2 separate regions of the Homo sapiens genome follow, and region 1 is linked to region 2. The links come from fine-mapping of genetic effects on gene expression. Tissue or cell type: lung. Region 2 holds a variant in brackets; the other region holds the start of a gene. All regions are shown on one strand. Distances are from middle to middle.

Region 1 (10,050 bases), 44 kb after region 2:
CCCTGTGGCTTGCCCAGCATGCACACCATCACATCTGAGCAACATGCTTAGTTAACTGGGGGGAAGGAGGTAGAGCCCTCAGTGCTCCTGAGGTAGACAGAAGTTACCCATCAGTGTGAGCCACGCTGCAGGCATTGTCCCCTTTGGCTGGGGCTGACATAAAGAGATAAGGAGCAGGTGGGTTAGGCCTATGCTTTGCTGTATTCTGAGAGACTTGCCATCTTCAGAGTTCTTGTTTCTATACTGCAGAGTTTCCCACTAGGCTCAGAAGGGCCACTCTTTTTCTGGGTTCTCTACCTATGTTGGAGAGGGGAAGGAAAGAGGAACAGGACATATTTATTGAGAGCCCACTTTGTGCCTTTATATATTATTTCACTCAAATGAGACAGAACCCTGCAAGATGGATAAACTGAGGCTCAGAGAGCTTCAGTAACTTGGCCAAGGTCCCATAGCAAGCAAGGGGTGGAACCAGATTCAAAGCTAAGCCTAGACTCCTCACTTCCCCACTTCCACCAGACACACGTCCTTCAGATACTGGTGTTTGTTTTCTTTCCATTATTTCTCCTCTTTTGCTGTCTGAGTTGAGGTCAAAGCCTGTTCTCATCCCGGGAAATGAAACCAAATCACTGGTGACTGTAATGGATCCAAAAGACCCAGGCAACTTTGGAAAACACCAGCAGGGCTGCCATCAGCCCTGTTTCTTGAGGTCATGGTGATGTTGGCAATCACTCTGAAGGAAGAGGACAGAAATATCTCTTATCTTTGCTTTAACTGCCAAAGCAGACACAGTTTTTAGAGCTGGGTGCCAAGTCAGGGGTACCATGTAGCCAGAGATCCTGGCACACATCTGGATAGCTGTTCGAAGAATCTTCCTGCCAAAGGGGGTTGGGGTAGTGGTGAGGACATCTGAGGAGGAAAGGGATCCTACAGCTATAAGGATGGGGTGGTGCATGATGAGGGTCCTAGGAGTGGCCATTCTGACTTCAGGGTATGGCCAAGGGCAATATGCATGGGTAGGGAGGGAATGGGGAGGAAAATTTCTTGGCAGTCTCCCCTTTATCCTCTGCTCTTCTCCTCTACTTTTTAGGCCTCCAAGCCTCAGCACTCATCCTGTTTCTCATTCTTAAAGGCCTCTCTGTTAGCTGAAGACCCAAAAGAGGGTTGCTAGGAGAATAGGTTGTAAGCCTAGAGTCACAAATAGCCATCAGACAGGAAGGGTCTGCCTACAGGGGCATCAGCTCAGAGGAAAGCAGAGCTGAAACACAGTGATAATGTCATTTGAGTCTTTGGATCCAGCCATGCCTGAAGCCCTGCACTTTTAAATTAAGGGGACCAAAAATTTGCATTTTCACATAAGAAATTTTCAACTGGGTATCTGTCACTTATAAGAAGAATAACGTGAATAGCATTCTAACACTGAAACAGTACTGGATTTTCTAGTATGATTTTCAAGTACAGGTCTTCTATAACAGCCAAGGGAGGATGCAGAGAACTTTAGGATAGAGCCATTGCACATGGAAAGTCCAGAATCTGGAGACACTGAGGAGAGGAAGAGAGCTGGCCAGCCCCTGCCTCAGCAGGCCTCTGCTCTAGGGATAGGGTAAGATACTCAAGTCTGGCTTCATGTCTGAAGCTCTGTAGGGAAGCCTGGAGAAAGGATAGGCCAGCCCCAATTCGAGGGTTCTGCAACCTACAGTTTTTCCTGAAGTTGTTCCAGGTAATGATGGTTGCTACCTTCTGCTGAGCCTATGCTACATGACCAATGTATTACACTGTCTATCGTTTTATTTCTCACAGCAGCCCTGAGAAGTAGAGATATTGGCACAATTTTCTAGATGAAGAACTGAAAGCTCACAATGGTGCAGTAACTAACTAGTCACATAGCTAGTAAGCAGCAGAGCAGGGATTCAAATCTAGTGTATTAGACTCCAAAACCTGTGTTTTTAACAACCATATTGTATGTTACTTCCTCCAAGATGGGTCAATGAGGCAGGGGACGTTGATTGGCTATATGGAGAATTAATAATAATCTTTTCTGTTGGTACAGCCCTAGAGAGTTTACAAAGCACAATTGTATATGCAGTCTCACTACATCCATTTTACAGATATGGAAACTGAGGCTCAGAGGTAGGAAGTGATTTACTCAAAGTCATTTGGGCAAACAGGATAAACCACCCAGAGATAACTCTCCTTAAATTAAGCAGGCAGTCTGTAGTCTGCGAATACTCATAATGTGTGGGGGGAGGAAGGAGCTGGCCTCACCACACTGAACCTTGAGGGCAGTGATGGTATCAGTCTGTCCAAGGAAGGTCTCAGACAGGTGAGGGGACCAACAGGTATTGCAGCCACAGACCCAACTGCAGAACACAAATCCCACTACACCAAAGGGCTCTGAATTCACAAAAAGATTCCCAGTTCCAGTCGGGCACCATTTATTTTTCAGCAACACTTGATATGGGCAAATTCCAGTTCAACTAGAGAGATTCAGCTTCCTGGTGTTCCCAGGGGGATCTAGCTCTGAAAAGAGCCCCTTTCTTCTGTCAGGACATCCTCAGCAAAAAAGGCTGCAGGTCTGAGCTGAGCAGCCTGGAGAGTGGGGATTCCAACTCCCCCCGAGAGTGTCTACCTGCCTGGCTTCCTCCCTGAGGAAAGTCACTGTCCCAGCCCAAGCCCTAGGGGCCCTCACTGTTGGACCTGCCCTGATGCTTTGCCAAACTCAGAGGCACCTCTCCTAGACGGACAAGGCAAAGCTGACTTTCACTGTTCCCTGGGTGATCTGCACCTGGAGGAGTGATCAGGCAGGGATCCAGGTGATGGGACAGAAGGGGCCAGGGCAGCCACTGTTGTTCACTGCTGGAAGTGTGCCAGGGGACTGGAAGGTGAACAGCAATCCCACCTGTCTCCTAGAGACTCTGTCCTCCGTGTGTAGGGGAAAGTAGGGGATGGGCACACAGGGAGGAATCCAGCCCTGGGGCTTCCTTGAAGCCAAGTGAGCAGCCTTCTGTATTTGTTTTCCCACAAACAGTCTTTGAAACTGGGGCAAGTGTTGAAGGCAGAACAGAGTAAAAGAAGCAGCTTCATGAGGCCAAACCCAGTCTCTCCAGGTCTAGGTAGTCCAGCACAGGTTCTGGGAGTAAATGCCAGCTTTACCACTTGATTTCTTTGGTACGACCTTAACTTTTTGCCATCCTTTCACTAGTATTTGAGAACCCTCTGCATATTAGGGCATCAATGCTAAGCAAAAAATGGGTTCAGTCACCTTCCTGGAGGTTCCAATCAGTGGAGGAGACAAATATTAATCCAACAACCAGTACCCCCCTACCCCTACCCCCACAGAAAGTGTCAAATGCCCAAGAGATAGATAGTATATAATTAGAGAGACTTCACTCTCTCTGGAAGGTCAGAGAAGGCTTTCCTAAAGAAATGATAATGGAGCTGAGGTCTGGAAGAAGCATAGGAGTTTCCTGAAGAGGGTAGGAGGGGGCACTGCACACAGAGGGAACAGGACAGTCAAAGGCAGGCCATTTGGCAACAGGTGACTGGAAGGAACTGGAAGAAGGCCCATGAGGCTGAAGTACAGAGTGAATATGCAGGGTCTAGGCAGACCATGCAAGAATGTGGGTTTCTCCTAAGAGCAATAGGAAGCCTTTTGAGGTGCTCTTAGCAGGGAAGTGAGATGATCACACTTATCGTTTGAGAAGATTACTCTGGCAGCACAGTGAACAACGTATTGGAATGGAACCAAGGAGCATTCAGGAGGCCAGACAGAAGGTATCAGGTATTTGCCTGTAAAATGGGGGTGATGAGAATACTATCTTACAAGCTGTTGCCAGGATCCAATGAGATACTGCATTTTAAGTGTCTAGTCTAGTACCTGGCACATAGTAAAGGCTCAGTAAGCGTCGATATTGTTACTTTTATCATTGGTTCTTTGCAGAGTGCACATATTTCTTATCCAGGTCTGCTCCTGCGTGATGGGGTGGAGGGAGTAGTTGTGGTTTCCAGAGTGAAAACGTGATTTGTGTCAAATCACAATGTCGAGACCAGAATCCAGGATGCCTGAAGGCCCGATTAGAATGGCTTAAAAGTATGGATTATTCAGGAAGAAAAACGGGTTCCAATCGCTCCTACTAAGGACGCTGGAGGGATGGTGAACGATCCTTTAGATGGTAAGCCCTAGCACTTATTGAGAAAAACAGGTGCTTCTTTGGTCGGAGAGCAGGTGTAGGGCTCGCAGCCGCGTGCGCTCCCGCGGAGGCGGGGGACCCTCGCCACTCCCCCGCCCCACGCCCACCCGCGGGCTTCCGACTGCACCTGCTCCCCCGGCTCGGAAACGCGGGCCGGGTGCCGGGCTGCAGGCAGAGGGTGCCCGGGGGAGGAGGTCCCGAAAGCCTCCTCCACACGCCTGCACCGGCTGCCCCCTCCCCAGTCACGTGGCCCGGTGGGTGGGGACCGACCTGAAGTTGGAGAAATCCGGAGCGCTCCCAACCTCGGAGGGAGTCGCCAGTCCTCCGGGCCCGGGCGGTGGACCCTGGAGCCCCGGCTGGCGGCGTGGAGGTGCGTTTCTGAGAAGCCGAGCAGCGGCGCGGGCGGCGGGACTCGAGGCATGGCCCGGCTGTCGGTGATCCCCGGGTCGGCCACGGCGTGGACAGGTGAGCAGGTACCCGCGGCCAGCGGCAGAGATGGCCGGGGCTGCCAGGGCATCGGGCCCCAGAGCCCACGCCAGTCCAGGGGATGCGGGGCCCCCACGCAGGAGGGGGCGGTTGGGTGAAAAGGCCGCGGTGGATTCTCGGACTGCCGGGTCAGTCCCCACCAGCGCCGCCGCCTCCTCGCCGGCTTTGCCACCGGGTGAGCAGGGGACGCGGGACGCGGGACGCGGGACGCGAGGGAGCCGCGCGGGGCGTGGACTCTGTGCCGGCCCCGCCCCCCGCGCGCGCACTGGCTGCTCCCCGCGACGTCACGCTCGGCTATAAAAGGCGCGGCTCGGGGCCCTTGCGGCGCTGGAGGAGCTCGAGGCTGAGGCTGCCGGGGGGCTGTGGGCTACCGGGCCGCCGGCGCCTCAGCGATGTTTTACTCAGGGCTCCTCACTGAGGGCGGCCGCAAGGAGACCGACATGCGGGAGGCGGCGTCACTGCGACAGCAGCGCCGGATGAAGCAGGCGGTGCAGTTCATCCACAAGGACTCCGCCGACCTGCTGCCCCTGGACGGCCTCAAGAAGCTGGGCTCGTCCAAGGACATGGTGAGCCCCCGCCGCCGTTCTCGCCCCGGCCCCGGCGGCTTCGCGCCCGCCGTTTTCCGAGGCCCGGCCGTTGCGGCTTTCACTGAGTCACGGCCCGGCCCGCCGCTGCCCTTGGCTCGCGGTCGCTGCGTCGCGGATTCCTCCCCTTCCAGTACCCCTGCTGCGGTTTCGGTGGGGATTCCGTCGTAGCTTTTCTAGCTTGCGCTCCCCTCGGCTGTGCCTCCTCCCTGGATGTCTCTTCTCCAGTAGAAAGAAGAGGTCCTGCCCTGCCCTCTTGCCCTCGGGTCTTCTTTCTTTTTCCTTATTCTTAATACCGAATTTTGTTCACGGGGCTTGTGCCTCCTATGCTGTGTGGCTGTTCCTATGACCCAGACAGAGGTGATTCCTAATGGCTTTCCGTGAGGGGGAAAGAAGTGGAAAGAGGGTTTTTTGACAGTTGCCAGATCCAGAGGACTTCTGTTGAATCCATTGTCCCCCTATGCAAAACCCACTTCTCTAGTTTTGGTCCTAACTTTGACCTTCCATCCTGAGTGGGGAGAGAGAAAAGGGGCCAAATGTGAAGGTTTCCTGAACCCCCAACATCTCTTCATCATTCTCCTCTTCCAGCCCCGCCCCCAAGGAGTGGGTAGAGGGAGGAAGCCAGGCTGCTGCATCTCACCGACCAGCTAATGTGTGCATCTGGAGCTGGGGTGGGTGCAGTCTTTTTTTCTAGCACAGTTGTTCCTGGCATTAAGTAGAAGCACCTCAGGACAGGGGGCCTGGGGTCAAAGATGGTACTGTCCTCTTTCTATAGAATGGGATGGATGGCTAAGGGTTACCAATATAAAGAACTGTATTTGTCATCCCTCAGCCACTGTAGTGGTCCTGGGCCAAGTTTATGTTTAACTTTGTAGTTTTATCTGGAGTTTTCTTGTAGTTTGATTGTTTTCTTGAATTTCACAATCGCTTTATTCATTTGGGTGGTAATATGTGAAACACTAATTAAATGTCTTTTAACAAATGAAATAGGTGCTCTGCATAATTTTTCTAGTATTTTTTATTTTAAGCTTTTGAAATATTTAATTTTGGATGTGGTTGTCGGCCCTAGTTCACTGAAATTGCCATTTCTGGCCCCAGGAGGGCAGAGCTTCTGCATCCATTTCCTTTTTTTTTTTTTTTTTTTTTTAATTTAACAGCTCTAATGATACACAGGTACATTATATTATACACAGTATAATATAATATACAAAAATTTTTCTCCTCCCTGCCATTAGTTACTTCTGTGCAGAGTTTGTCTACTTCAGTTATCTTGCTCTGTTTTTTTTACAAGTTGTGTTTTTTTGTTTTGTTTTGCTTTTTGCACAACCCACAGGATAGTTTATCTGATTTATGCTAACCCAGAGTGATAAGTGATTGAAATGTGCTCCTGCAAAAGAGATAACTCTCTTTTCCCTTCTTTCACTTTAAAGCAATCTCGATTCATTTAACAAATCAGGTTCGAGAAGTATTCTTTCCTTCAGGCCAAATAATCCTATCCTAGTTCCTAGAATGCTCAGCAATCAATAAAGAAGGAAGTATTATATTAAGAGAAGAATTAAAATACAGAGTTTTTAAATGCTGGATTTGGTTGTCCCTCGTTGTCGAGGAGTTTCCTAGCCCTGAGAGCTACCTGAACTTCCTTCTGCCTAGGATTTCTTATACTACTTCATGCTGTGTAAGAATTCCATCCGCTTTTCTGACTCTAGTCTGTCTCAGTTGAGTCACAAAGGGCTGATAGCATACAGCACAGGCAGCAGGCTGCAAAGAGGAAGGAGCCTCAAGAAGCAGGATATTGCCTTGAGTATGACACATACACATGACAGTTGACTGTAAGGCTCTGAATCATGGTTCACGCTTTCTGTGCCCCACCGTCATGGAGTTGATTTCCCTCTCTCACTGTTTTCACACCTATAATGTACAAGTGATTGCACAGAACAGCCAGGTTACAGAAACCAAGGCAGACCGAGGTAGGGCTAGGAGAGCCGCAAGCGCTGGGGTGAGGCAGCATGCTTAAACTCTCTTGGAACTGTTGTTGCAGCCTTAGTACAATCTTAGAAGTGACCTTAGAAGTACATTATTATTCTTTTACTTTATAAATACATGTGGGATAGACCAGTGTTGACTCAATTTTCTCTCACTGCAAGGGAAATTTGGAGGATGTTAAAATTAATTGAATAGTTCTTACTTGGAGTAGTTTATAGTATAATCTCGATAGAAGGAGTCCAAGAAAAGGGAGAGGATAGCATCAGAGGGAGATAAGGAAGAGAGAGGAGAAATTAGTTGTTATTGACTTTTGGGTTTGTGAAGATTGTAGGTTGTTTTTCCTCATACCAGCAACCTATATTTGAATATACCGCTGGGATTTCTGAATTATCTACCTCTTACTATGCTGTTTCTGTAATGTTCACTGCTTGATACCAGCCTGCCAGCTCTTTTAGGACTGGCAGAAGGCAACCATAGGAAATCAAAGGGGGTCATGTTCTCTTGGCCCCAGGAAAGTGCCTTTGCCTATTCCTGTGTATCTGGAGTTGGCTGATACAAAGTCTTCTGTGGAAATTATATTTTTGTCTGCCCCTTTTGCTTTTATCCTTTTATCTTGTATTGTTCATTCTGTATTAGATTAAGAACTAAAACCAGAGATATGAGTGAGTAATATTATATTTGATTTTTTTTTTAAGAGACGGGTTCTCACTCTATTGCCCAGGCTGGAATGCAGCTGCAGTCACATCTTACTGCAGCCTCGACCTCGCAGGCTCAAGAGATCCTCCCACCTCAACCTCCTGAGTAGCTAGGATTACAGGTGCACACCACAACACCAATCTAACTTTTGTATTTTTTGTAGAGATGGGATTTTGCCATATTGCCCAGGCTGGTCTTGAACTCCTGGTCTCAAGCGATCTGCCCACTTTAGCCTCCCAAAGTGCTGGGATTACAAACATGAGCTACCACACCCAGCCCTGATTTTTTTTTTTAACTCAGTGAAGCTGGAGAAAAACATCTCCGTTCTTGGAAATTTGCCTATTGTAATTTATCTTGTTTTAGCTACCAGGTTCATAAAAGTTTTTCTCATTGTGCTAAGGACTTTTTAATTTTTAAAAACAGTCATGTTATGTGGTAATATGCTGTCTTTCCTAAATGATATTATACTTACCTGTAGGCATTAGGCCATATTCTTACTTGTCTGGCAATAGAGTTTTTCTTTCCTACATATGATTGCTTCTGATCATAGCTAAATGCTTTTTCAAAACTGACTAGAATTAGGAATGATGCTGGGGGAAAGATGGTTGAACACAGTAAAGCAAACTTACCATAAAATACCTGAACAGAATCTCTGTCTATTAGAGCAGGTCTGTGTGGTGTGCCCTATAGATTAGCTATCCATATCACCACAAATCATGGGCTGGAGAATTTCAGAGGCTTAGAAGAGAAGCGTGAAATACCAGTATAACACCAAGATCTGGCACAAACTGAAGATTTGCAGAGTCGTGATTGCATCCTCGTAATAGCAAACATTATTTGAATACTTGCTGTGTTCAGGACACAGTCTAGGGGCTAAGACACAAATAGGAAGACAGAAAAGTTTCTCATTATAAACAGGTTTATAGGTTGGGGGCAGGGAAGGACAGATCAGTTAATTTAATATACAAATATTTATTGAGTACCTACTACACATGTCATGCAATAATTTAAGCTTTGGAGATATAATAGTGAACCAAAACTGAGTTCCTGCCTTGACGGAACTTTCATTCTTGTGGGAGGAAGGAGGCAGAAAGTAAAATTAAGTAAATGTATATAAGGTAATAATAATAAATATTTTCTATGGAGAAAATAAATCAGGGTAAGGGGAATAGGGAAGGCAGTGACTGGGGTGGGGTGGAGTCTGGCTATTTTGTACAGGGTTGTCCGGCAAGGCCTATCTGATAAGATTACATTTGAGGAGATACTGAAGGGAATTAAGGAGCAAAGTTTCTCAGGGAAGAGTGTTCTAGGCAGAAGGAACAGCAAGTGCAAAGGACTGAGGTGTCACTGTGCTTGATATAACTGAAGAACTGTAAGAGGACCAGTGTAGCTAGATCAAAATGAGCAAGGGGGAGGGTGATAGAAGATAACATCAGAGATGTAGTAGGAGGCCATTGTGCAGGCATTTGGGTGGTTTTTTAAAATTATTATTTTTTTTATTTTCCACTCTTTTCAGCGCATACCTATGCATTTGGGTTTTAACCTGAGATTGGAAACGAGTGGAATATTTTGAGCAGAGGGGTGATATGATACATACGACTTATTTTACAAAAAGACTACTCAGGCTACTATGTGGGTTACACTGTAAAGGGGCAAGAGTAGATGAAGCAGGAAGACTGATTAGGAAGCTATTATACAGTAATTGAAGTGAGAGTTGATGGTACCTCAGAGCAGTGTGATAAGCTGTGAAGGAGAGGAGGAAGGATCAGGTTCTGGATATATGTTGAAGGCAGAGCTGACAAATGTAATTGATGCATTGGATTAAGAGTGAAAGAGTAATCAAGGAAGACCATGAGGTTTTTAACTTAGCCATTGGAAGAACAGAATTATCACTTGCTGAAGTGGATAAGACTTGCAGCGGGGAGCAGGTTGAGGATGGCAAATAAGAATGAAGAGTTTGCGGGCTGGGCGCGCTGGCTCATGCCTGTAATCCCAGCAGTTTGGGAGGCCGAGGCGGGCAGGTCACGAGGTTAGGAGATCAAGACCATCCTGGCAAACACGGTGAAACCCCATCTCTACTAAAAAATACAAAAAATTAGCCAGGCCTGGTGGCG
Region 2 (10,455 bases):
AAAGGGCTTCCAGGTCCTCCGCCAGATGCCCCGACCACCGTGCTTTGAGAGGTCCATGCTTCGAGACCCCATATGCTGGGCATTTTTCTAGTGGCCCATGTGGAGTGGGGTGGGGGGACAGTTTAGCTGCTACCAGGATAGCCTGTGACCTTGCTTATGCATTTGACAATTGACATTCTGTCTGTCAGGACTGCAAGGGGCCTACTCTGTCACCTGTGGCTCTTCCTCTCCTCTCAGGAACAAACAACAAAAATCAAATGACTCTGCTTTTGGGGGTAATTACCAAATCTGCGTGTTCTCTCTGGGGGCTCACTGTGTTCAAGGGGCTTCATTCACGGGGTGCTGTTCTTGGACATTGGCTTTGTTTTTTTTCTGTTAATTTCCTTGATGCTGTGAGCATGTTCCAGGGTGTTGTTGCCTGCAGTCCTGGTGCCCGGAATGTGACTCTCCCATGTAACAGATACTTACTGTGTGGCCACTGTGTGTCAGGAGGCTGTGGTCAGCCCTGGTGGGTCATCACCCTGGGCAGAGGCCCACAGAACCCCAGGACCAGCAGGCTGTACTCCAGAGCACCTCAAAGGCCCAGGGAATGTGCCTGGAGCACATGGTGTGGATAGAAATAGGCAAAGCAGGGGCAGCAGGGATTCTGTGCCGAGAAAGGGGCCCAAACCCTTTCCTGTTTGTCAAAAGATGAAGAATGAAATCCAAGGTTTTTAGGAGGCTGTGTCCTCCCGGATATAGACGCCTTTGTCATTATGTCATTGGAACACCTGAATGAGGTTCATATTACATCCTGATGTTCATATTACATATATGAGCAAAGCTAGAGACTCAAAGCAAGACAGTACAGCTTGTATGTGTTGACTGAGCAATTCAAATATGCCAGCTACCATAGTACACGAATTAACTGACTTAAGCCATACTACAACCCTCTGAGGAAATTTTACTATTATTCTCATTAACCAGATGAAGAAACTGAGGCTCAGAGAGGTGAAATAACTTACTCAAAGTGGTTTAGATAAGAAATAGGGGAGCTGGGATTTGAACCCAGGCAGTCTGGGTCCAGAGTCTCAAGCACTATCCTTCACTGCCCCTTTCAATGCACGTTTGGACTCAGCCAGGGCATACATCATGGTCTGTTTCGCCAAATCCCTCAGTGACAGTTCCTTGGTGATTTGGGCCACCCCAAGGTGGGGCAAGCAAATAGCTAATGGCTATGCAGTTATTACTACGTACCAGGCAAGGAGCTAAACATTTTCCTTTTTTTAAATGCATTATCTCATTTTATCCTTACAACAGCCTGGTAATATAGGTACTATAATTATGCCTGTTTTACAGATGAGGACACTGAAGCTTAGGGAGATTAAGTAACTTGCTCAAGTTCTCACCACAACTTAAAAGAGCTGTAGGGCATTGACTCCAGATCCTACCGGATGGTTAAGACTGACTGACCCTGGGAGGAGAACAGAATTTTGCACATCAGGCTCTCACAGTGGGACCCTCACTCCCTCTCAGACCTCAGAGCCTAGCCATGTTTAGTGAGTGCCATCTGTGTCTGGAACAACAGCTCCCTCAGCCCTGTCCTCCCACGACGGGCTTGTTTAGGAGAATCTGCCCTTCACCGTTTCGCCAAACGGGCTTATCCAGATTTGAACTGGGGGATTCTGGCCTTTTTTTCTCAGGAAGGCACAAAAATGACTTCATGTTCTATTTCACCGTGGAGGCTATTTTTGACCCTCAGTTTTAGATAGATAGATAGGTAGATAGATAGATAGATAGATAGGTAGGTAGGTAGATAGATAGATAGATAGATAGATAGATAGATAGATAGATAGATAATTTTTTGTTTTTTTTGAAATGGAGTCTCATTCACTCTGTTGCCTAGGCTAGAGTGCAGTGGTGCAATCTCAGCTCACTGCAACCTCTGCCTCCTGGGTTCAAGCAATTCTCCTGCCTCAGCCTCCCGAGTAGCTGGGATTACAGGCATGTGCCACCATGCCCGGCTAATTTTTGTATTTTTAGTAGAGATGGGGTTTCACCATGTTCGCCAGGCTGGCCTCTGTTTTATTTGAACACTGGATTTGCCTCTCACATGAGGGGGTAACTGCAATTTTAGGAGGCTCCTGGTGGCCCCAGTCCAGGGCAATGGGCACTCCATGATCCAAGCCACTCTTAGCCTCAGGGTAGGAGAGGGTCTCAGGGTGTGCTGTGTGTGGTGGAAGCCACCAATGGACAGCTTGCTGCTTCCCATCTGGTGTCTCCATTCCTTTGCCTCTGAAGGTAACATCTCTCACTTGTTTCTTTCTGAAGATGTCACCACCATCAGGACAAGTGTAACCTTTAAGCTAAATGAAGGCAAGTGTAGTTTGAAAAATGCTGAGCTGTTTCCCGAGGGTCTGCGACCAGCACTACCAGGTATGGAATCAGGTGGTTGGTGTAGGGAGCTTGCCTGCATGTGGGAAGGGGCCTGCAGCCAGCCGAGCTGGAGGTCCATGGGGGCCAGGGGCTGTCCAGCCGATCCAAGCACACTGCAGATGGAACTGAACCATCCCCAACTTCCAGGGACTCATCCCAAGAGGAAGAAGAGCATAACCTAGCATGCTTGTATAGTTCTGGGGTCACACTTCGGGGCTTCCTTTGCATGGTATAGTTGGTGAGGCTCTGGGGAAACCCACGAGTTCACAGAAGTCAATAAGGGCTTCAGATGAATTAGCAATTTGTGATCATATTGGGTTAAATTTTCTAGATCTCAGATTTTGCTTGAAATATAAGCCAAAGAAATGAAAAAAGGTTTGGCTCAGAAAGGATAACTTTGATGAACAAAGATCTAATATCCAGCCTTCCTGCTGGGTCTAGTTTTTGGAAGCGGTGACCCCATTGGCTTCAGCAAAGCAAATACCATCCAAGTAGAACTGGCCTTATTGAGAAGAGCAGAATCTAACATTCCTTTTTCTTTCCCAGCACACATTTCCAGTATTATTTTATAGAATTCTTTTGGAAATTAAAAATAAAAAGGATCAGGATTCATGTATTAGGGAGGCTTCTTTTCCCAATCTACTCTCAAATCACACAGACAAATAAACCTAAAGCTCACTCTAGTCACTTTTGACTGCCTATTTTAGGTAAGTATTTTTAAGAAACTTGGTACCTCCATTTGATGGAATATTATGCAGCTATTAATTCTATGTTTTCAAAGAATGTTTAATGACACAGGAAAATGGTCTTGTTATAATGCTGAGATGTAAAGCAGGAGAGAAACATTTTGTATATCTAATACAATCCAAATTGTGTAAGAAAAACTGTGGTAGAAGAAACAAAAAGAAAACTCACCCTATCATTAGTAGTGGTTACATCTGGGTGGGAGGCATGGGTAATTTTAATTTTTTTTCTGCATTTGCCAAATTAACCATAGTGAGCATTTATACTTTTAAACCTCAGGGGTGAAGGGAGGGGCCATTGCTTAAAAATAGATTTGAACCAGTTGTGGTGCCTCATACCTGTAATCTCAGCACTTTGGGAGGCCAAGGCAGGCAGATTGCTTGAGTTCAGGAGTTCAGGAGCGGCCTGGGTAACATGACAAAACCCCATCTCTACAAAAACTATAAAAAAATTAGCCGGGCCTAGTGGTTTGTGCCTGTAGTCCCAGCTACTCAGGAGGCCAAGGCGGGCGGATCACTTGAGCCCAGGAGGTTGAGGCTGCAGTGAGCTGTGTTGACACCACTGCACTCCAGCCTGGGCGACAGAGCGAGACCCTGTCTCAAAAAAATGAAATAAATACAATGATAAAAATAGACTTGGCCTATAGTTTACTTAATGGGATTGTACTAGTGTTAATGTCTTAGTTTTGATAAATGTATGATGTTAACGTTAGGGGAGACTGAGTGAAGGTTATGTGGGAACTCTATACTATCTTAGCAACTTTTCTATAAATCTACTTATTTCAAAATGAAAAGTTAAAAAAATATATATGGAAACATCGAAAGGGAAAAAGATTTAAAATGAGAATCTGTTCAGTTTAAGATCTGAAGTTACCCTTTTGAAAAAGTAAGATAAATCTTTAGGGGAAAAATGTAGAGAAGAAATAAATCTGCCTCCTTCCTGTGGCCCCTGTTGACCTATGGCTTGAATGTCCTTGTAATGTTAAAGAAGAATCTGATACAGGCAATACTTCATTTCAATAAAGATTTTGAAATAGAGACAAATTCATGGAGTGGATGATATGTGGACCTGCTCTTTGGTGAGGGTTAACAGATTCACTGGAAACCATGGTGAGAGGGGAGACAGCCAAGTCAGGAAGAAGGATGTGCAAAGCCCTGTCATGCAACACTTCCACTCTCATCCTAGATGCCTTCATGATATTGTTAGGTTCTGTTGATGCTTTGTACCATTTATTGCTCCTGGTTATTTAAAAATGAGACATCACTGCTGACGGGTGTTCCAGCTTTCCTTTCAGGTTAGAATGACTCCAAGGTCAGTTTGCCTGAAAGCAGTAGTTGGTTTCCTTTCCACTCTTGTGCTCATTCCTTATTTGAAGCCTCAGCCCCTGCTCGGCACATCCAGCTTTATGCAAACCAACTGTGAGAGTGTAAGCACACGTTAGCAAACCGTCAGTAAGGAATGCAAGACAATCCCTGGTTCTTGTCTTCCACATATGTGGCTAGTCAGTCGGAAACATCTCCCATTTATTCATGAAAAGAATTTTCAAGAGCTAAATTGTAAAGTTATATAGGAGGCAATGCTAGCTCTTCAACATTAAAATGTCGTTGTGCTCCAAGTTAAGGGCTTGCAGTGTCTTGGCATCTGGAGATAA[T/A]CACTTAGTCCCTTGAGAGTTGTTTTAATGAAATGTTTACTGAGCTCTAGCAAATGTTCAGCTGAGTGCTTTGCCAGGATTTGGCTTCCGATAATTTTGTTTCTTCATACAGAGAAGCACAGCTCAGTAAAAGAGAGCTTCCGCTACGTAAACCTTACATGCAGCTCTGGCAAGCAAGTCCCAGGAGCCCCTGGCCGACCAAGCACCCCTAAGGAAATGTTTATCACTGTTGAGTTTGAGCTTGAAACTAACCAAAAGGAGGTGACAGGTTGGTTTGAAAACAGTCTGCATTGCCAGGCTTCTCACGGCTTGCTCCTTATTTCTTTGCCTTTCACTTTTTATTATTCTTGGGGGAAAAGTAATGCAAACACTGAAGTATCTCCTGTTTTTTTTCACCCCGAAACTAAACTGAATTGGTTTGGAACCTGATGGTTTTCTCTGCTTCATAAAAACCCAAAGCTACCATTCTGATCCACAAATTTCTGTTTGAATCAAATGCTGCCCAGCCTGCTAGGTGCCCCCTCCAGGTTTCTCCCCATTCGGTCCACAGGGAGCTCGGGGTGTTGGTAGGGCCTGCAGTTGATCTGGCCATTGTCACACGCTGCAGCCTGATCTCCTCCCGCACTGCTGTCCCTCTTGTTTCTGTAGCTTCTTGTGACCTGAGCTGCATCGTAAAGCGAACCGAGAAGCGGCTCCGTAAAGCCATCCGCACGCTCAGAAAGGCCGTCCACAGGGAGCAGTTTCACCTCCAGCTCTCAGGCATGAACCTCGACGTGGCTAAAAAGCCTCCCAGAACATCTGAACGCCAGGCAGAGTCCTGTGGAGTGGGCCAGGGTCATGCAGAAAACCAATGTGGTGAGTGGCCTGGGACATTCTTGCTAACAGAACAGCCTTGGGCTCCATAAACACTCAGGGTAACCGAAGGCAAGTCTGGCCCATCCTCCCTTCTCAGGGCTCACTTTAGAGAACACTCCGGGCAGTGCTTCTGTTTCAGTAACTGTTGCGTTTGTGTCTGTCGTCCCTGCTAGGCCCAGAGCTCCCCGGAGTGAGACTGACCTCATTCATCTCCCTGTCCTCAGCACCTGGCATAGTATCTGGCTTGTGGTGGGCACTAAAATGTTGGTTGACTTGAGGAACAGGAAAGAAGTGGCTGATGTTCTGATTCCAAAGCCTGTGCTCTGGTCCCAAGCAGGGTGAATTTCAGTAATTAGATTTCTCCAGGATAAACTGATGTCCTTTTCCTAAGTATCAGTAGAATCATGAGGCCCAAGCTTAGCTAAGGAGTAAGAATCCCATTTGTATTTCTAAGTAAGCAAAGCTGAATCCAGGGGCACTTGTTCCAGAGAATTGTCAGCCTTAGGCCCACAGCTCAAATTTGTTGCTTTGCCAAAACTTAGTGAAAATCAAGTGCAAAATCAAGTGTAACTGTCTACAAGAGGCTGGTTTCCAGATAGTCTTGATTTTCATTCCAGCTGATTCTCTTAAAAAGAAACAAAGTGGAAAAAAGTAAAAACAGCCCAGCTGGTTGATCTGTTCTCATTTAAAATTCTAAGAGTTCCAGTTTCCGTACTAAAATAGTGGGGAGAGTTGGCTGTGGCTGCCCTACTTTCCAGGATGAGTTGCAGAAACTGTCAGGGCCCTCCTGGCCTCTCAGGGTTACACTGCACCCCTCCCCCGTCTGCTATCCTGTTGGGGTTAGGCCTCACGGACGGGCCAGGGAGTCTTTGTGGCCAGTTAAAAAGTCAAGAAAACCTAATGTCAAGGGCCCCATGGACTGGCTCCCAGTGAGGGTATCACTAATACTACCATGGGTATGTTCCTGGGGAGTAAAGGCCCAAGGATAAGGAGCAGGAGTTACTTAACAGGGGCTTCATGACCACAACAGCCTACGAAAGACACTCGGGGCCAGGCATGATGGCTCACACCTATAATCCCAGCACTTTGGGAGGCCAAGGCGGGCAGATCACGAGGTCAGGAGATCGAGACCATCCTGGCCAGCATGGTGAAACCCCGCCTCTACTAAAAAAATACAAAAAATTAGCTGGGCGTGGTGGCGCGTGCCTATACTCCCAGCTATTCGGGAGGCTGAGGCAGGAGAATCCCTTGAACCAGGGAGTTGGAGGCTGCAGTGAGCCGAGATCGTGCCACTGCACTCCAGCCTGGGCGACAGAGCAAGACTCCGTCTCAAAAAAAAAAAAAAAAAAAAAAAGAAAGAAAGACACTCAGTAGAGGGTTTGTGTAGCTGTGGTGGTGTGTGAATGTGTCCCTGAGATGCTTGTCATGCTAAATTAGGTTTGATTTGTTTCTAGGGGAGCCAATGTGTCTTGTCTCAGGAGCTCCCAAACACTGGATGAATTCTGTAGCCCTCACAGCATCAAATCAGGTCCAGGTCTGACAGCAATGTTGAAGATTTTACCATGCAGAGAAAACGGCTCAAGCAGTTACCAGTGACATTCCCTCTTGCTGCTGAGGGAGGAAGTGGGTGTAAAGAAGTGTCAGGTGTGTTAATTAGAAAGGCTTTTTATCCAGAAGGCAGCATGTGGCATAGACAAGGCTGTGTGTGTGTGTGTGTGTGTGTGTGTGTGTGTGTGTGTGTGTGTCTGTCTGTCTGTCTTCTAGTCCTGGTCTATTTGATGGTGTTAGGACTTCATAAAGACCAGGCTTGCTGATGTTTTCTGAGCTCTGGATGGTACAGTGGAGACAAGCTTAGGATAGTTCCTTTTAGAAATGATTTTCGGTATTTGCAGAAAAGAGCTCAAAAAAAGAAAAATGGAGTCACTTCCATCTCTCCTGGGGGGAGAGATGGAACCATTATGTTTATCTTTTTAAATATTTTAAATTTAGTTTTCAATTATGAAAGTAGTGCCTGTTTCAAATGGCACAGAAATGTATACAGTAAAGATGAAAGTTCTCTCCACAGCTCCCTAATCCAACTCCCCAGCAGTAATCACTGTTATAGTTTGCTGTGTGATTTTTCCACAACTGTTTTTATGCACATATAAAAAGGAAATTTTATATAGTCATTCAATAAATATTTATTGAGCACCAATTGTGTGCCAGGTACCATTCTAGATATCAGGAATCCAGCAATAAAGAAACACGCAAACATCTCAGCCCTCACAGAGTTTACAATTTTAGAGGAAGAAGGTAGACAACCAACCAATAAACGAGGAAAGATACTACTATCATGTAGCAGAGGGCGACAGGGATATGGAGAGCAGGGCTGCAGGGAAGTGGAATGGAAAGTGCCAGGCCAAGGTGAGGGGTGAGGGATGAGGAGCGTACTCCCCCAAAGTGCAGACTGTGGTCAGGGAAGGCCTCATTACAAAGTGTCATTTGGGCAGAGACGCAAAGGACAGCAAGAAGCAAGCTATGGAGATATCTGGGGGAAGAGAGTTTCAGGCAAAGAGAACAACAAATAGGAAAACCCCAAGGTACTGGAAGGAAGGCCAGAAGGATGAGAGCTGAGAGAGGCAGGGAGGGAGAGCAAGGGCAGAGCAGTAGCAGAGGGAACTCGAAACCAGGGAGGACCCTGATCCCGAATCTGATGAGAAAGGAAGCCAGTGGAGGGCTTTGAGCATAGGAGTAACTGACATGTTTTCAAAAGATAACTTTGGCTACTGTGTTGAAAGTAGACTGTAGGTTTACGTATGAATAGATATATCTTTTTAAAAAAATAGGCTGGGTGCAGTGGCTCACATCTGTAATCCCAGCACTTTGGGAGGCCGAGGTGGGAGGATCACTTCAGGCCAGGAGTTCAATACTAGTTTGGGCAACATAGTGACACTCTGTCTCACTATGTTGGTTGGTAGCACCTGTAGTCCCAGCTACTCGGGAGTCTAAGGCGGGAGGATCATCTGAGTCCAGGAGTTCGAGGCTGCAGTGAGCTATGATTGTGTCACTGCACTGCAGCCTGGGTGGCAGACCAAGAGCCTATCTTAACAAAATAAAAAACAAATATCAATACAATTTGAATAGTGCTATGTGTTGTTTTTAACTGTAGTTAGATCAAGAACATCTCTCTAACATGATAGCGGAGCAACCTCATTTCTTTTACAGCTTCCCAGGCTGTATTTGTTTGAAGACACCAGTATTGATTAGCCCTACCCCTACTGGTGAACATAGAAGTTATTGCTAATTTTTATATGGCAAATAGTGCTCAATGAATATCATTCTTTGTACACATGGCCAATATTTCTGAAGGATAGACTTGCAAAAGTACAATGGCCGACTCAAAGAACTTGCATATTTAAAACTTTAATAGATACTGCCAAATTACTTTCCCAAAAGATCATGCCTATGCATGTCGCTTCCAACGTTGGAAGCATCCTACATCTTTGCTAACATGGATTATTTATCATTGATCCTTTTCATTTTTGCAAATCTGGTAAGCAAAAAAAAAAAAAAATAGTCATTTTAACTTGGTTTTCTTTATTAGTAAGACTAAGCATGCTGTCTTATGCCTGTGGTCATTTGGATTCCTTCTTCTGAAAACATCTATATTCTTTGCCTATTTTTGCATTGAACTGTTTGTCCTTTGTATAGCATTAAAAAATAAATTTTAAAGTCCCAATTTACACCAGAGAAAATAATCACTTCTGACCAATTGTATATTTTCTTTCTTATCATTATTTTATATAGTAAAGTTTCATTAATTTGGCATTTGGGGACTTTGGGGACAGCCTGCTCTCCAAGTGACCTTTGTACCATCTGTGATCAATTTTAACAAGATGGCAAAAAAAAAAAATGATTATAGGGTCCAAGGAACAAATTTCTTAAGCTCTGTAGTACTTCATAAAGTTCTTCATGTCTAAAGAAAATTAACTATATGACATGGATGTCTAGCTATTGTACTTTCATAATACCAGCTAAAAGATAAATTATTTAAGAAATACACTGGATAATATATATGTGTGTGTATGCATGTGTGTGTATATATGTATGTATGTATGTATGTATTATATATACTGTATTTGGTTGTTTTGAAAACTTGCTGAGATTTTTAGAAGAAACAATCCAGACAACTGGCAAACTGGGAAGTATTTTAGTGCCTGGGTTCTTGAGAGACTAGGAACATTTAATTCCTTTTGTAACAGCTTACTGCTGTTCCTCTGCAGCAACCTTGGATATGTTGCTAAGGAGCCTCAACTTTATCTCTAGGTGACATGCTGCCATTGGAGGATTTACTCGGGAAGTGTCCAGGTCATATGTGTATTCTAGAAAGATCTCTCTGACTTTACTGGAGGGAGCAGAATTAGAGGCAGAAAGACCAATCTGGGGGCTTTTGAATGTGTTGCCTATGAGATACTGAGAACATGCAGGTCCTAGATAGAGAAACAGCAATGGGTTAGAGAAATATTTAAGAGGGAAAATGAGCAGCATTTGGGGATGACATGGATTGGGGACTGAGAAGGGGAAAGAGGTGGGCTGAGCTCAGAGGATTCTGATGTGGCCTGTGATCCTGGCACTTGCTTCCCATACATCCCTCATCTCACCATGCCCTGTTTCATATGCAGGAGGCACTGAGAAAACGCCAGGGGGTTGGTTGAATGATGAAATGAATGTGATCACTGGGGAAGAAATAATCAGAAGAGATTTATAGGAGAAGCAGGAAAAAAATAGGCTCTTGAGAGAGCATGAGAAAG

The links. PIP is the estimated chance that this variant, and not a neighbour inherited with it, causes the effect.
Region 1: NRIP3 starts here. The variant in region 2 is fine-mapped to the expression of NRIP3 in lung (TOPMed, PIP above 0.99).

The regions. Positions count from the first base shown.
Region 1 is chr11:8,998,951-9,009,000 of GRCh38, reverse strand. NRIP3 (nuclear receptor interacting protein 3) reads left to right here and starts at 5,000. Exons shown (of 7, transcript NM_020645.3): 1 at 5,000-5,239. The coding sequence starts at 5,066. NRIP3-DT (NRIP3 divergent transcript) reads right to left here and starts at 4,913. Exons shown (of 3, transcript NR_183663.1): 1 at 4,458-4,913. RefSeq lists an enhancer at 4,904-5,823.
Region 2 is chr11:9,042,566-9,053,020 of GRCh38, reverse strand. SCUBE2 (signal peptide, CUB domain and EGF like domain containing 2) reads left to right here. Exons shown (of 23, transcript NM_001367977.2): 13 at 189-275; 14 at 2,311-2,415; 15 at 4,923-5,078; 16 at 5,459-5,665. All of the region lies in intron 1 of NRIP3-DT (NRIP3 divergent transcript), which reads right to left. Among named protein-coding and RNA genes, the nearest start is that of MIR5691, 43 kb to the left of the region's middle. RefSeq lists an enhancer at 5,482-5,983. The variant T/A (reference allele first, on the strand shown) is at 4,811.